Regions from separate parts of the Homo sapiens genome. Here region 2 is linked to region 1. Evidence: fine-mapped expression QTL. A gene starts in region 1. The other region holds a variant in brackets. All regions are shown on one strand. Distances are from middle to middle. Region 1 holds the start of TECPR1 (tectonin beta-propeller repeat containing 1). Region 2 overlaps TECPR1 (tectonin beta-propeller repeat containing 1).

Region 1 (2,898 bases):
AATCTCAGCTCACTGCAAGCTCCGCCTCCTGGGTTCACCTCATTATCCTGCCTCAGCCTCCCGAGTAGCTGGGACTACAGGCGCCCGCCACCACGCCCGGCTAATTTTTTGTGTTTTTAGTAGAGACGGTGTTTCACCATGTTAGCCAGGATGGTCTCATCTCCTGACCTCATGATCCACCCGCCTCGGCCTCCCAAAGGGCTGGGATTACAGGCGTGAACCACTGCGCCCGGCCCACTCATCGTCCTTCTGCTAATAGCACCCTGATCTTCCTCTGAGGAGCCACCCCCTGTGCCTGGCTGAGCCCTTATGCTTGAGGGGGGCTCTGCCCACATCTCCAGACCAAGTCCACAAATGCCAGTCCCTCAGGCCCAAGCTAAAGTCAGGGTCAGACACAGGACTCCACAGAGCCATCCGGGGTGAACAAGAGGCTTCTGGGGGCGTTTTCTTCCACTGGAGCTGGCCTGTGTGGGGCTTCCCCAAACATGAAGGCCCAGGAAAAGCCTGTGTGCAACCCCAGAAATGAGACAGAACTAGAGGGGGAGCAGGAATAGGTCCCTAGGTCCAACCAGGTGACATTGGTTTAGCTCAATGTCGGGTAGTATCTAGCCTTCCATCAGATGCCCTTTTTTTTCTTTTTTGAGAAGGAGTTTTGCTCTTGTCGCCCAGGCTGTAGTGCGGTGGCACAGTGGCACGATCTCAGCTCACTGCAACCTCCACCTCCCCAGTTCAAGCGATTTTCCTGCCTCAGTCTCCCGAGTAGCTGAGATTACAGGCATGCGCCACCACCCCTGGCTAATTTTGCATTTTTACTAGAGACGGGGTTTCACCATCTTGGCCAGGCTGGTCTCAAACCCCTGACCTCAAGTGATCCGCCCGCCTTGGCCTCCCAAAGTGCTGGGATTACAGGTATGAACCGCCGCACCTGGCCGACATCTTTCTTTTTTCTCCTTTCTCCATCCTAACCTTGCCAGTTTTCTGCCAGGCGGGATACAGTGTTTTCAAATCCCAGTTCCATCGCTTACAACGTGAGTCGCTCCATCTCTGAGCCCGTGTTCGCATTTGTAAAATGGGAATGACGCCGCCAGCTCTTTGGGTTGCTGGGAGGATGAAATGAGAAGACCCAAGTAAAGCACTTACGTCAGTGCCCGCCACCCCGGGAGGACTCGCATATTACTATTAATATATTAGGCCAGCTTACACTGGGTTTTGTCACTGACAATAGAGTTTGAGCAATCCAGGGCCTGTTACTGACACCACACCATGCTATAGTCACAAAATCACATATGCTTCCAGGACTCCTCCTCGAAAGAGTAAAGCTTTAAGTGTAGTGTGTGCTCAAGGGCTACGTTTCAGTTCGATGGATACCAGGAAGACACCTGTTCCCTGCGTCCTCTCCACGCCCCAGGCCGGGCGCCCACACCCTGCTCCTCCTGACGCCGCACAGCCACGCACCCAGGTACCCTCTCCGCCACCCCTTCTCCTCGCCTGCAGGCGGTGTCCACACCGCCCTCTCCGCTCCTGCAGACCGGGTCCTGGAGGGCGGCCGGGCGGTCCACGGGCCGGTGTCGCGCCGCCAGAGAGAACGCGGCAACTCGCTTCAGCCGACTCTGGACTCCTGACCTGGCGCGACCCCGGAAGTGGGCGGGCGCGCGACCTCGAAGCCAGCACCGACGCGGCGCACCGCAGCCAATCGCACGTCCCAGGTCGCAGCGTCCTGGCGAGGCTGGCCAATGGGCACGGGGCCTGATGCCGCTTCCGGCCCACCCTCTTGCCCGGTCCCCGGGAGGGCCGGTCCGCTCCTCCCGGACGCCGAGGACCTACCACCGCGACTTCGCCCCGCCCGGCGCGGGCCCAGGTGAGTGCAGAGTGGCGCCCCAGCTGCAGCGGCGGCCAGGGCCGTGGGAAAGAATGGGGCGATGAAGGGCTGGGCACGCCGCCTTCCCCACCACCCCCAGGCTGTTTGCTCGCGGGGAGGGAGGAAGGAGGGACCGCACTTGTCATCTCGCCTGCACACCTGGAAGGTGCCGCCCCCGTCCCCTGCCCTGGAACGCCCACAGGCTAGCGAAGTTGCCTGGTGCAGGTGACGCCCCCATTCCAGCCTTTGGACTGGAGCCATAGGAGAAGCGGATCGCGGGATCCTGGTTGTTTTCGAGAATCACGCAGCAAGGGGCCTGCCTATCCCTCTCCCTGGGTATTGATGGGAGCAAATCTGCTTGTCGTAAGATTAGCTTTGGCAGATGGTCAGGGCCCAGAGCTCCGACATATGCTACTGGTGGCAGTGCAGGGGCCCCACCTGTCACCCAAGTGCACAGCACTGGGCTGAACGCCAGGCTGACTCAGGACACCTCCTGCCCGGTGGGGCTGGGCGGACCCTATTCTTCAGGAAAGAATCAACTACCATGCAAGTTCTGCTGCTTTTTCCCACCTTTTAGGACCCTGATGTCGCTTTTGAACAGCCCCTGCACCTGGCAGCCAGCGAGCTACTGTAGTAGGCATTGCCGACTGTTTGCATACCGGATGGGAGTGACAGTGTAATAGAAAAACAAGCAAGAAACCTTTTAGGTAGGACTCCTAAGGCTCAGAGGAAGTAAGTGCTTGCGGAGCGTTCTTTGTACTGTGTCTTTTCCTCTACCACATCTCTGTCCCCGCCTCTCTTGGGTGCTTTTTTTGGTCTCTGAAAGGATCTGTGAATAAACTGAGACAGAAAGGCAGATGGCTTTGAGGGTGGCGAGCAGACCTTCTTCGTGGAAAGACTGAAGGTTCAACTCAAATTCATCTTGTAGAAATTCTTGGTGAATTCGAGGCTGCTGATTTGGAAGATTTTCCTCCATCCCTCTAACCCTACAAAACAAACAAGTCCCAGGATCCCTGAATCATGGGGCTTCATGTTCCAAC
Region 2 (2,822 bases), 35 kb after region 1:
GTAGCAGTGCTACTAATTTGTGTGCATTGATTTTGTAACCTGAGACTTTCCTGAACTCATATGTCAAATCTAGGAGTCTTTTGGAGGCGTCTTTAGGGTTTTCTAGGTATTTGATCCTATCATGGGCAAACAGACACACCGTGACTTCCTCTTTTTCGATTTGGATGCCCTTTCTTTCTTTCTCTTGCCTGATTGCTCTGGCTAGGACTTCCCTTGTCCATAGTTTCTGCCTCAGCAGAAAGAGGATCAGGAGGCCGGCCGTGCCCAGCACAATAGGGCGATTATGAGGCTCGGGGGACGCCCCGAGTGTGCAGAAGGCGGAGCTGGCTGCAGCCCAGGCTCCTGAGTGTGGAGAAGCGGAGGAGGCTGTGGCCCTGACTCAGGGGCCAGGACCCTCCTGCCTCCCCAGCAGCTTCCCAAACCCCGAAGTGGTTAGAGCGGGGCCTGGCCACCGGCTGCCGGGCCGCACGGGCAGGAGGGGCCGGGAAGGTCTTCCCCTTTGACCCTCACTGCTTTTCTCCCCAGGAAACCTGTGGTATCGCCAAGGGATCACGCCCAGCTACCCGCAGGGCTCCAGCTGGGAGCACGTGTCCAACAACGTGTGCCGAGTGTCCGTGGGGCCCCTGGACCAGGTGGGGGTGCTCAGGGGGTATCGGGCACTTGGGGTGCTCTGGTTCCCTCTCTGGTCTCCCCCATCCCATGCCCAGCCGTCCCACTGCAGGTAGGGCTGAGGGCTTCATGGGGTCTGTGCTCCAGGTCTGGGTGATCGCCAACAAAGTGCAGGGCAGCCACAGCCTGAGCCGGGGGACAGTGTGTCATCGCACCGGCGTGCAGCCTCACGAGCCCAAGGGCCACGGCTGGGACTACGGCATCGGGGTGAGCGGGGCCCGCGGCCTTGGGCTGTGTTATCACCTTGTGCCTGCACTGGGTGCTGAAGACGGGACGACCACTGTGGGACTGTCCCCTGGGACCCGGTGTCTGGGTTGCAGGGAGGCCCCCAGGCAGATCCCCTCCAGGATCCTCGAGTCCCCGAGTCCCCTGGTGACACAGCTCTCTCCTTCCAGGGAGGCTGGGACCATATCTCTGTCCGGGCCAATGCCACCAGGGCCCCCCGGAGCTCGTCCCAGGAGCAGGAGCCGAGTGCCCCACCAGAGGCCCATGGCCCCGTCTGCTGCTGAGGCCCCCCCACACACCTACATGCAGGGACGGTGCCCAGTTTGGGGGATCAAGGCTGAGCCATTCTTGTGCTGGAGTGTGCACCGTGGGAGCAATGTGGCCCAGGTGGACTCAGGAGGGAACCTGGCCCCAAGGCTGCGGCCACTTCAGAGGCACTGGCTGAGACGGCCCTGAAATGTGAAGCTCCGCGGACACTCCCACACGTGTCCCCGTCTGCGAGGAGTCCCGGGGTGTGGGGCATGGGGTGGGGCTGCACCTCCCAGAGGCCCCTCCCA[C/T]CCTTCCCTTCCCCTCTCCCTTCTGCCTTTCCAGGACTAGAACCGGGAACCTGGAGCCCTCCGGGAACGCCGGCCCTGGGGCAGCAGAGCCAGGATGGAGCCCTCCTGAGCTGGCATCTCAGACAGCACCCGGGCCCGCCACCCCTCACCAAGAGAGATGGCCATGGGGCTCAGGGCCTCTTTACCATGTGCAGTGACCATTTCTCAGAGCAGGACTTGCAAAGAGGCTTTAATTTCAAAAGTGAAGGAAGGAGGCCAGGCGCCGTGGCTCACGCCTGTAATCCCAGCACTTTGGGAGGCTGAGGTGGGCAGATCACCTAGGTCAAGAGTTTCAAACCAGACGGGCCAACATGGTGAAACCCCATCTCTGCTAAAAATACAAAAAAAAAAAAATTAGCTGGGCATGGTGGTGGGTGCCTGTAATCCCAGCTACTCGGGAGGCTGAGGCAGGAGAATCGTTTGAACCCGGGAGGCGGAGGCTGCAGTGAGCCGAGATCATGCCACTGCACTCCAGCCTGGGCGACAGAGACTCCATCTCAAAAAAAAAAAAAAAAAAAAGTGAAGGAAGGAGACAGCAGATTGGAAATAACACTGGAGTGGATGGGATGTCCTCTTCCCTGAGGGGGCCGGGGTACCAGACGGGAGGCTGGGAGAGGATGAGAGGCTGCCCCATGGCTGGAGGCAGTGTCCGTGTGTGCAGTCACCATCATCAACCCCCATTCGGCCCCTTCCCCAGATGCGCTGGTGACAGGGGCTTCTTGGATGTCAAATCATGTTGTAGGAGGGTGCAGACTGCGGGCTTCTGTGGGGAGCAGTACTACTGTGTCTGTCGGCAGTGGCCATGGGACCCTCAGCCCGTCCTGTACATGGAGCAGGGTGCACAGTCACCCTCCATCCTGTGGCGAGAGGCTGGCCCGGCCCGGCCAGGCGAGGCAGAAGGTGTCGGCCAAGTGGCCCCGACCCCATCCCGCAGTCTCTCAGCTGCTTTTTATTACCTCTGTGCCCCATTTGGGAGTTTGCTTCCTCCACCTGGACACTTTGCCCGGGAGGTCATCAGAGCCCAACCCCAGGCTCTGCTCGGTTGGAGAGGGGATGACTTCACCACCACCTGACCTTCCTAGGGTCCTGGTCTCACTGTCAGCTGGGGGTCCGTTGTGTGTATTTGTACAGTTTTGCTGTATGGGGTTTGTCACCCAAAAGCTGATGCTGAGAAAGGCCTCCCTGGGGCCCCTCCCGCGGGCATCTGAGAGACCTGGTGTTCCAGTGTTTCTGGAAATGGGTCCCAGTGCCGCCGGCTGTGAAGCTCTCAGATCAATCACGGGAAGGGCCTGGCGGTGGTGGCCACCTGGAACCACCCTGTCCTGTCTGTTT

What was found. PIP is the estimated chance that this variant, and not a neighbour inherited with it, causes the effect.
Region 2: its variant is fine-mapped to the expression of TECPR1 in whole blood (TOPMed, PIP above 0.99).

What each region holds. Positions count from the first base shown.
Region 1 is chr7:98,251,086-98,253,983 of GRCh38, reverse strand. TECPR1 (tectonin beta-propeller repeat containing 1) reads left to right here and starts at 1,752. Exons shown (of 26, transcript NM_015395.3): 1 at 1,752-1,858; 2 at 2,436-2,590. LOC124901706 (a long non-coding RNA gene) reads right to left here and starts at 1,625. Exons shown (of 2, transcript XR_007060448.1): 1 at 1,456-1,625; 2 at 1-1,100. RefSeq lists silencers at 1,466-1,565, 1,656-2,045 and an enhancer at 1,362-2,105.
Region 2 is chr7:98,215,746-98,218,567 of GRCh38, reverse strand. TECPR1 (tectonin beta-propeller repeat containing 1) reads left to right here. Exons shown (of 26, transcript NM_015395.3): 24 at 526-632; 25 at 757-876; 26 at 1,065-2,822. The coding sequence ends at 1,178. Among named protein-coding and RNA genes, the nearest start is that of BHLHA15, 5.7 kb to the right of the region's middle. RefSeq lists an enhancer at 223-282. The variant C/T (reference allele first, on the strand shown) is at 1,452.